Regions from separate parts of the Homo sapiens genome. Here region 1 is linked to region 2. Evidence: fine-mapped expression QTL. A gene starts in region 2. The other region holds a variant in brackets. All regions are shown on one strand. Distances are from middle to middle. Region 1 overlaps TCF12 (transcription factor 12). Region 2 holds the start of ZNF280D (zinc finger protein 280D).

The links. PIP is the estimated chance that this variant, and not a neighbour inherited with it, causes the effect.
Region 1: its variant is fine-mapped to the expression of ZNF280D in monocytes after triphosphate RNA (Kim-Hellmuth 2017, PIP 0.95).

The regions. Positions count from the first base shown.
Region 1 is chr15:57,163,098-57,168,097 of GRCh38, reverse strand. TCF12 (transcription factor 12) reads right to left here. Exons shown (of 21, transcript NM_207037.2): 6 at 1,632-1,696. Among named protein-coding and RNA genes, the nearest start is that of SNORD13D, 110 kb to the left of the region's middle. The variant G/CACAG (reference allele first, on the strand shown) is at 2,964.
Region 2 is chr15:56,730,286-56,735,813 of GRCh38, reverse strand. It overlaps ZNF280D (zinc finger protein 280D), which reads left to right and starts at 2,305. Exons shown (of 22, transcript NM_017661.4): 1 at 2,305-2,356. RefSeq lists a silencer at 2,286-2,555.

The sequences.
Region 1 (5,000 bases), 430 kb before region 2:
TGAAGTGATCCTTCTGCTTTGGCTTTCCAAGTAGCTGGGACTACAAGTATAAACCACAGTGCCCAGCTCATAATAGCCAATTTTAAGATATCAGTGTGATGTCAACCATACTTGCTAAATTCCTAAAAGTTTAACAGATTCGGCTCTTGTCAGCTAGTAAGAGCTGGTAAGGCAAAACACTGGCTATGACACAATGCTAATCTATATATATTTTAAATGACTAGAATAAAATAAAGCTAACCATAAACGGAAAATAGAGCAATCATTAACAACACTAAAACTTTAAAAAATCACTTGGATGAAAATAGAGTAAGACTGCTTGGTCTGAAGCCAAGAAATCTGAGTGTTGGTCCAGTAACTACCCCCAAATCTATGATATTTAACAAATCACTTATTCAGACCATGCCTATTTGCCATTAAGGACATGGGAATATATGATCCTGAATTTTTACAATATATTTATTTTCTCTCTCTCTTTCTTCCTTTCCTTCTCCCTTCCTTCTCTTCCCTCCTTCCCTCCTTTCTCTCTCTCTCTTTTTGAGACAGAGTCTTACTGTCACCCTGGTTGGAGAGCAGTGGTGCAATCATGGGTCACTGCAGCCTTCAACTCCTGGGCTCAAGTGATCCTCCTGCTTCAGCCTCCCAAGCAGCTGAGACTACAGGCATGCACCACTACACCTGGCTGATTTTTACATTTTAAGTAGAGACAAGGTCTCACTATGTTGCCCAGGTTGGTCTCAAACTCTTGAGCTCAAGTGATTCTCCTACCTCAGTCTCCCAAAGTATTGGGATTACAGGCGTGAGCCACCGTGGCCAGCCTACTACAATACATTATTTTATAATGGGAAGGCATATCACAAAACAGGATGTTATGTAAAACTCTCTTAGAGGCACAATTATGAAATATGTATTAAATGGAGTATTATTAGCATGGCAGTTAAAACCGGCTCACATGCCCATGCCTGAAATTAGGGTGGGCCCTCATGTAGAGCATGCAGATGGCAGAAAACAAATTTAATATGTTCTGCCTTTCCTTTCTATTCTTTTTGGCTTGATTCTGATGGGAATCTGCAGGTGAATTGTGTGTTCAGGATTCTCAGTCTAAAGATATGAGGAAAAAGGCAGAAAAGATGCCCATTAGCAGAAGCACAAAATGCTAGAGAAGGTGGGAGAGTCGAAACAAAGATTCCAAGTCAGGGAGGGTGTGAAGCCTAAAAATTGGTTACATGCAGGATTGAAAACAAAATACTTCCAATATTAATGATCAGTTTGACATTACAGGATATTTAAGCTATGCAGATCAATCATATATTCTTTATGTACCACCAATTACGTTTTCTGTGAGAAAATATGCAAAAAAATTTCTCAGAAATGACAAGCATTTTGGAAAGCGGTAGCTTTGTTTCCAGTTAAAATGGAGGTGGGTTATGAAAATCTTTGATGATAAAGACAGCCTGGTAAACTGGGGAACTGAAACAATTTTAAGCAAAGAGAGCAAAAAACAACACTTAGTTACAAATTAAACAAACAGTAGTGAAATAAATTGGATAATTTCTATCTCATCTATTAATAGAGCCTTTATTTATGTGTTTAAAAACCATCTCATTGCTTTTTTTAATCATTAAACTTACTTGACAGCCTGGTAATCCAGTATCTCTGCTGTACAGGGAAAATGAGCCTCTCTCTGATGTTTTTCCTATAAAACAAAGAAATTAACTTTATATAAAACCCTTCATTTATTGACAGACAATCAAACTGCTAGACTATTCATGGTAATTATATTGCAGTTTTAAAATAGAAAGAACAAATTAGAAATAAGAGGATACAATTCAATAATTTGTAAAACTTGCTATCACTTCAGTCAGTCTGAGTCAAATTCTGGGCAGGATGTAGTGACTCACGTCTGTAATCTCAGCACTTTGGGAGGCTGAGGTGGGAGGACTGCTTTAGTCCAGTAGCTCAAGACTAGCGTGGGCAATAGTGAAGCCTCTCTACAAAAAATAAAAAATTAGCATGGTGATATATGCCTGTATTCCCAGCTACTCAGGAGGCTGAGGTGGGAGGATCACTTGAGCTATATAAAGTAGCATGTAAATACTTTATTTTCAACGTATAGTATTTTAAAACACATTTAAAAGAATGAAAGACATTTATATAGCCAACAATATGATACATGTACCCACTAGTTAGAATGTTTTCCCATGTTTGCTTCAGACTGAACCTTCTTCTCTTCTTTCTCTCTCAAAAATTAATACAGTATTGGGCCAGGCACAGTGGCTCACGCCTGTAATCCCAGCACTTTGGGAGGCGAAGGCGGGCGGATCACGAGGTAAGGAGATCAAGACAATCCTGGCTAACAAGGTGAAACCCTGTCTCTACTAAAAATACAAAAAATTAGCCAGGCATGGTGGTATGCGCCTGTAGTCCCAGCTACTCAGGAGGCTGAGGCAGGAGAATCACTTGAACCCAGGAGGCGGAGGTTGCAGTGAGCCAAGATCACAACACTGCACTCTAGCCTGGGTGACAGAACAAGACTCCGCCTCAAAAAAAAAAAAAAATTAATACAGTATAGACATAGCTCAAACCACACCTCTGGATAACCATTATCATAATAATGATGTGCATGATTACCATGTATGTTTTATACTCTTAAATATATATTCATGTTCTCGAACAATATACATTACTGTTTGCATTTAATATATTTAAACAGATGGAATTACATGGTTTTTATCTTGAAACCTGTATTTCCATATATTATGTTTTTGAGCTGTGTGTTGATAACAGATCCCTAGTTTGAGCATCTTTACTGCTATACAATATTCCATTATACAAATAAAACCAGTTTATATATTTCCCTACGGAAAGATAGTTTTTATATTTTTTTGTCATGAGCAATATTGAAACAAATATCCTTGCACATCTCGTGTACGCACACACACACACACACACACACACACACA[G/CACAG]ACATACATTCCTTCAGGATAGACACAAAGAAGGGAAACTGGTAGATTAAAGGATGCGAACTTTCAGCTTTATAGGCATTGATTGCCTTATTATTCTCAGAAGTCACCACGCCCATTTATATTCTTCCCAGCAACATGTAAGAATTCTTGCTGTGGTGGGGGGCAGTGGCTCACGCCTGCAATCCCAGCACTTTGGGAGGCCGAGGCGGGCGGATAACCTGAGGTCAGGAGTTCAAGACCAGCGTGGCCAAAATGGTGAAACCTCATCTCTACTATAAATACAAAAATTAGCCAAGTGTGGTGGCACACGCCTGTTAGCCCAGCTACTCGAGAAGCTGAGGCAAGAGAATCATTTGAACCCAGGAGGCAGAGGTTGTGGTCAGCCAAGATCGTGCCATTGTACTCCAGCCTGGGTGACAGGGTGAGACTCGTCTCAAAACAAAAAACAAAAAAGAAAAAAAAATTCTTATTGTGACTATACCCACTGATACGGTTTGGCTGTGTCCTCACCCAAATCTCACCCTGAATTGTAGATCCCATAATCCCGACATGTCGTGGGAGGGACCTGGTGGGAGGTAACTGAATCATGGAGGCGGTTACCCCCATGCTGCTGTTCTTATGATAGTGAGTTCTCACAAGATCTGATGATTTTATAAGGGGTTTTTCCCCTTTTGCTCGGTACTTCTCCTTGCTGCTGCCATGTGAAGGAGGACACTTTTGCTTCCCCTTCTGCCATGACTGTAAGTTTCCTGAGGTCTCCCCAGCCATGTTGAACTGTGAGTCAATTAAACCTCTTTCCTTTATAAATTACACAGTCTTGGGTTATGTCTTTATTAGCAGCGTGAGAACGAACTAATACACCCACAGTTCAAAACTTTCATGGCCAAGTATCAGTAATAGTATGGGCCAGTTCTTGAGGGAGAATGGAGGTTAAGTCTCACAGCGTTAACAATTAACAGTAGGGTACTCACTCATTTGTATTCAATATACTAAATGAATTTGCAAATGTGGTATTTTTGAGGCTCAGTAACTAAGGCCCCCAAACATGGTGCTTTGACATGCTGGATTGAAGCAGCAGCCTCAAGGTCTCTCTAAGTCATGCCCTCTCCACCAGACCCCTCCCCACAATCTTCTGTTTTTTGCAAAGCACAGAATGAAGTTGTTCTCTGAAATTCCCTATCTATTTAGAAACCGGACCTGCCAAAGAAGAACACAATTACCTTCCCTGAGTTTCAGTAATTCCTTCTATGCCAGTCATTCTAAGTTGGCAGTTCCCTTCAGTCTCTGCCATCTTCTTGTTCCAAGAAGATTTCTGATCCATTTTGATTACATGCAGGGAAGGCTGTGTATGTCAGAATTGCAAGTGTACAATCCTTTAATGGTTTTATTTTGTAGTAACTAGTTTTATTGAATTAATTCATTTATTTATTTTGAGACAAGGTCTCGCTCTGTCGTACAGGCTAGAGCACAGTTACATAATTACAGCTCACTGCAGCCTCCAACTTCTGGGCTCAAGCAATCCTCCCACCTCAGCCTCCCAAGTAGCTGGAACCATAGGTGTTTGCCAACACGCCTAATTTTCTAAAATTTCAGTTTCAGTAGAGACAGGGTCTCATAGTATGGCCTAGGCTGGTCTCAAACTCCTGGGCTCAAGCAACCCTCCTACCTCAGCCTTCCAAAGTGTTGACGTTACAGGTATGAGCTACCACGGTGGCCTAGCATTATTATTTCAAGGATTATTTTGCATATCTAAAGGGTTAACAGATGTCAGATTTAGAGTTGTAAAACTTCTACGTCAATTAGTCAGCATGACATGTATACTTTAATGAAAATGATACTAGTCTATTTCTAAGGTTTTTAAAAATAATTATGTATCATATCAATAAACAATTTTGAACATCCTATTCACCTGTAGAGTTTTTTTAATTAGTGAACTACATTTTTTATTTTTTATTTTTTTTGAGACTGAGTCTCACTCTGTCACCCAGGCTGGAGTGCAATGGCATGGTCTCGGCTCACTGCAACCTCCACCTCCTG
Region 2 (5,528 bases):
CCCCAGCAGACTAGACTAAAAACCAACATGGAGTTACCCATGCTCACAAAACTGAAACTGAGTTGTTATGTGGCCTTCTGAGAAATCAGGAGAGAGATAACAGCCTAATTTCCCAAACAGGCCAGTTTAAACCTTCAATCCCCATGATAATGAAGTTCCCTGTTTTAAGTCGTTTTTGTTTGTTTTTGAGACAACGTCTTGATCTGTTGCTCAGGCTGGACTGCAGTGGCAGGATCATGGCTCATTGCAGCCTTGAACTCCTGGACTGAAGGAATCCTCTTGCCTCAGCCTCCTCAGTAGCTGGGACTACAGGTACACACCACCACACCTGGCTGCTGTTGTTCTTACAATATTAATCTGGAGTAACCTGGTATTAACCAATCAGTTTTCTTTCTATTATTCTGTCTCAGTGCCCCACCTTACAAGGAAAGTAACTTTGAAAAGACCAACTTGTTTTTTGTTGTTTCTTCTTTCTTCAGCCCATTTTCTGTCTATAAAGCCAACCACATCTGCTCCATTCATGGGAACACCTATTCTGTTTTACTGAATGAAGTGGTGCCTGAATCTAGAATTGCAATAAAGCCAACCGAGATCTTTAAATTTGTTGTAATTTCACCTGACACTGTAGCATGCTTTGCTAACCTTTAGGGACATTTGAAAAACGATGTCTTAAGAATGTTCCAAGATTTTGGAATTTTTAAACTTTCCATGTTTGCTGTTTTGACTATTTTCTGTCTTTTCCTGTAAGGTTTATTTTTCAGGGCCAGCAGAAAAGGGAAAGCTGGGTAGATGATCCCAGGCCCATGTGGGAGAAGGATAGGTCATGGTTACCTCCAAGTACACCAGATCTGTAGGAGTGATCCAGGTGGTCTTTGGGGAAGATTAATTTGGGGGCAGTAATCAATATGGAGACTACAGTAATGATAAACACTTGAGAAAAACTGGGGAAAGCCAGATGAGAGAGAAGAAACTGAATTCGAATAGGAAGATGAATTAGCAAGATTCAGTGATTGAACAGGGTGTCTGTTATGGATCCTAACAGGCAAGATTTCAAGTCTTGGTCACTCACAAGCTGCACCAGTAATGCCATTGCTCTTGAGAAGACAATCAGTTTAGGAAACTTTCCTTACAGATCAGAATACAACCTTTAGCAAGTATTTACGCAAGCAGTATCTTGGCAAGTGTTCTTCTTGTAAATTTCTTATACTTCTCGTTGTCAAACTTTAAAAAATGCTATTACAGGTTAATATGCAGATGGCAGAGTTAGGAATTAGAGTGTGCAAGTTAATCATTCTAATTGGGTCACTCTTGTCATAGCCAACTAAAAGAATGGAGAAGCCAGTGCTGGGGGAAGCCCTCAGGGCACATAACATTGCTCTAAGAATGGAATTCTCAGCAAGCCTGGCTGCTGAAACCGCCTGCTGTAACCTGAAACAGGTTTTATCTTCAGGTTTTAGCTTCTCAAAGAACCTGCTGCAGCTGTAGGGCAAGCTTTACCAAGCCCCTTCCCTCACCAGTCAGAACTAACCAGCTACCCAAAACTTTACTAAATGTCAACGAACTTTCTAGAAAAACAATAGATAACTTTTTTTAAAAAATAAAACCCCCTAACTCCTCTTTGTTCTTCTGACATACTGAAGACCACCCTGTATGTGTAAATAACCTGAACTTGCAATTCCTGTGTCCCAAATAAAACGCTAAATGTACAGATTCGTCTCTTCGTATTTGACCTCGACAGGGAACGCAAGCAAAACCACACATTTAAAACAGACTTGGTAAAATCAGCTCGTTATTTAAAGAAACGGACGATTCCTTTTTCTCTCCTGGTTTAGTCTTCGACCCACAGGCCCCTTGCTTCTTTCGAACGGCGGCTGTATCCCATGACCTTTTCACTTTCCAAGCCAACGGACTGGGGGTCGTTACACACGCGGAGGGCCCGGAACGCACGGCTCCTCGCCTGCAAATTCCGAGCAGTCCGGATTTTGGGGCTGCCTCCCGGCCACACCAGCCAGCAGCTCGCACCCACATGGAGGCAGGGCCCTGGCCCTCGCCCCGGACCGGCGCGTGGCGGGGCGCGTGGGTCTTCGAGGGCCCGCGACGCGGCGCACATGCCGGTGCCCGCCTCCCGCGTCGGCGAGAAGACAGGGAGCTCGGACACGGGGAGGCTGACCCGGAGCCTACCCATGAGGCAGCGCGCCGGCTGCACGAGAGCCCCCCCCTTTCCACGGCTCGGCTGCCAGCTCCGCAATGGGAGCCGCCGCCGTCGCCGCAGTGTAGTTTTTCGTGCTCCTCCTTTTCCTCCTCCTCTTTCTCCTCCTCCTCAGGGCTCCAGTCAGGCCGATCCGCTCCGCTCACGGTAAGCGCCCCCCCGCCCCCGCCCGCCCTGCGCTGCAGCAGGCAGAGGCCCTCCCGCGCGGCCTGCGCCGCCTCACTCCGGGGGCGCTGGACTGGGGGTCTTGAGGCCGGCGCGGGTCGTCGGGAGCGCCCAGAGCGCGGGGGAGGAGACCGGCTGCGCGGCGGCGGCCGGACCGCCATCTTGCGTCGGCCCAGGCGGGGGAGGAGGTATCCCGGCGCGACGCGGCAGCCGCCTCGGCTGCTGCAGGCCTGGGCCGCGCAGGCCTTCGCCTTCTGCTCCTCCGCCACCTCCTCTCCCAGGCGTGTGCGCCTGTTTGTCCCCAGCCTGGTTTTGGCTTTTCTCTCTGGAGGCAACTCCCTTTGGTACATTTTGTGCCGATGTTTGGCCAAGACCCATGGTCCTCACACCACAGCCCACCCCCGTGTCTCTTCAGTCGTAGGAAAGGAGACCAAAGGGGATTCGGGATTTGCAGGCACAGGGCCCCTCATTTTGCCCAGATGACCGGTCGTTCCACGTTTGCACCCTCATTTTTGTCAAAGAGACCTCCCCTCCTCTGCCATAGAATTCCCGTTATTGTCTACAGAAGAAGGGCCCTGAGGAGAAACGTGGAGTTGGAGACAAAATTTTCTGAGCTTTGCAAGGTTCACTTACTGAGACGGAAAGAATGATCTCACTCTGAGGTTTTAGCCTGCTCCAGCGATGGAAGGAATTCCTCCCAACTTATCGCAAGTTTTAACGCTTTTAAGGAGAAATCTGCTGGAGAGGAAAAACGTCAAGGTGAACCCGCTTCTGCAAGCACGGGAGACCTTTGGCCAAAGGCCTTTGTTTGCGAAGATTTGTTAAAAAAAAAAAAATCTGTCATCTTAAATATTTGGCTTTATTTTCAGGTTTGGACAGAATTTGTCTTTTTTAGTGCCATGAAACATAAAATGGAACGCTAGAAGGACAGTTTTAAAGCACAAAAGCTGCCTCTTAGCATCTGTAAGGTGTCCTGCTTTGGGGGACTGCTGTGCCAACTCCAGCTGTCTCCACGCAGAAACTTAACCAGGGAAGGCACTGGTTTGCTTATACCATTGTTAGGGCTGTGTGCCTCTGATGTTTTAACATCACTACAAATACTGTTGTAATTGTGTCTTGCTTTTGTGCCTTTCATTGATAACCCCTGATTTGTATCTCTTAGCCCCTTTTGAAGTGGTCTGGGTTGCTGGAATCATTTTGCAGGCGAGGAAACAGAGCCTCAGGGAGAGGACTTTAATGAGGTCACTGACTAGGAAGAGCCAAGGCCAATTATATTAATAGAACCTTAGGTCTTCTGACTCCTTCTCCGGTGCTCAACTCTAGTATATACCATTTTTGTGGGAATGAGGTAGATGAGAATAGGCAAGGAGGCTCACTTAAAGATTTTAAGAAACATTACTCAGTTGCCCTTTCGTTGATATTTTTATACTTTACTTTTGAAATGCGGTTGTTATGTTGCCCAGGCTGGTCTCAGACTCCTGGGCTCAAGCTGACCTCTCACCTCAGCCTCCGTAGCTGGGATTACAGGTGTGCACCATCTAGCCTGGCTTTTATATTTTTATTCTCGAGTTAATTTCTTAACTTTGCAACTTGCTATTTTTTTCGAAAATATTGGAAAGTTAAATAGCCCATTTGAACACTTAGTTTTAACGCTACCTTTTTGCCATATTTGCATTTTTCCACTTATCTCACATTCTGTTTTCTGAACGTTTCAAAGTGCATTACGGATATGACAGTTCAGCCCTAAATGCTGTATGTGTGTCAGTATGTATTTTGTAAGAGATCAAGGCCATTTTTCTGTGTAACAATACCGCAATCACACTTAAGAAAGTGAAGAATATTCCTTAAAATCTAACGTGGTGTAGTATATATTCACATTTCCCCCCATTTCTTCAAAATTCCTTTTCAGTCTTTTTTTTTTTTTTTTTTTTTTGAGATAGGTACTTGCTCTGTGTCCCAGGATGGAGCGCTGTGGAGCAGTCTTGGCTCGCTGCATCCTTGACCTCCTTCCTGGGCTCAAGCCATCCTCCCACCTCGGCCTCCTGAGTAGCTGGGAACCCAGGAGCACGCCACCACACTCAGCTAATTTTTGTATTTTTTGTAGAGATGGGGTTTTGCCGTGTTACCTAGGCTGGTGTCAAACTCCTGGGTTCAAGTGATCCACCTGCCTCGGCCTCCCAAAGTGCTGGGATTACAGATGTGAGCCACAGCACTGGGCGAAATTGACCTTTTGAAGAGACCTGGTCTGTAGTCTTTCAGAATAACCCATATTCCATGTTTTAGTGATAGTTCCTCCTGATAGTGTTTAAATTTGTTCCCCCTATCCTCTCTGTTTTCTCTAAACTTGGATTTGGGTCTAAAGGCTTGAATATATTTAGGTTTAATATTTTTTTGACAGGAATACTTCATAAGCCATGCAGTATGCTTCATTGCATACAACATCCAAAGGCACATAAAGTAGGCTTGTCTTATTAATAATCCTAAATTTGATCTCTTAGATAAGGTGGTGACAAGCTATCTTTCCATTGTAAGCATTTCCTTCTGCAATTAGCAAGTCATTTGTGGTGTGATATTTTGGCATTAGTAGTTGGTAGGAATTTACCTGCAGTAATCTGATAAACACAGTTGGGAGCAGTCGTTTAGGTATGGCTTTGGAAGTTAGGAAGAAGAAGAAGTGGAGACAATTCTGGAGGAAATACTAACCCATCTACTTTAGGGAACTTGGAATGCTTCTATGTGTTGGCATCAGAGCCTAGGGAGACTAGGAGAGAGGAGGCAGAAAGTAGATGTCAGAAAGCTTTGCCTTCTTTGAAAGTTTGCTTAGGACCATTTTAGCCATAGTAAGCTATGGTAAATAGAAAAGTTCTGAAGTAGTTTGATGTTGGAGGATTGCAAGTGCTTCAACTGGAACATCTGTCCAGTTAGGCTACTAATCCAGTCCTTTTTCATTCCAGTGTTCTATTAATCAGCATTGGCTCACTGAAATAGCAGTTTTCACAAATGAAAAGTCAACTGTAGTTTTAGGTGACAGGAAATTGGATATTTCTATTGACAACATACTTTGTTATTCCAAAAGCAAGTTTTGGAAGATGAGGAATACTTACGACATATTCACTAATTAAATATATAAATCCTGAATAGTTTTTTTCTTGCT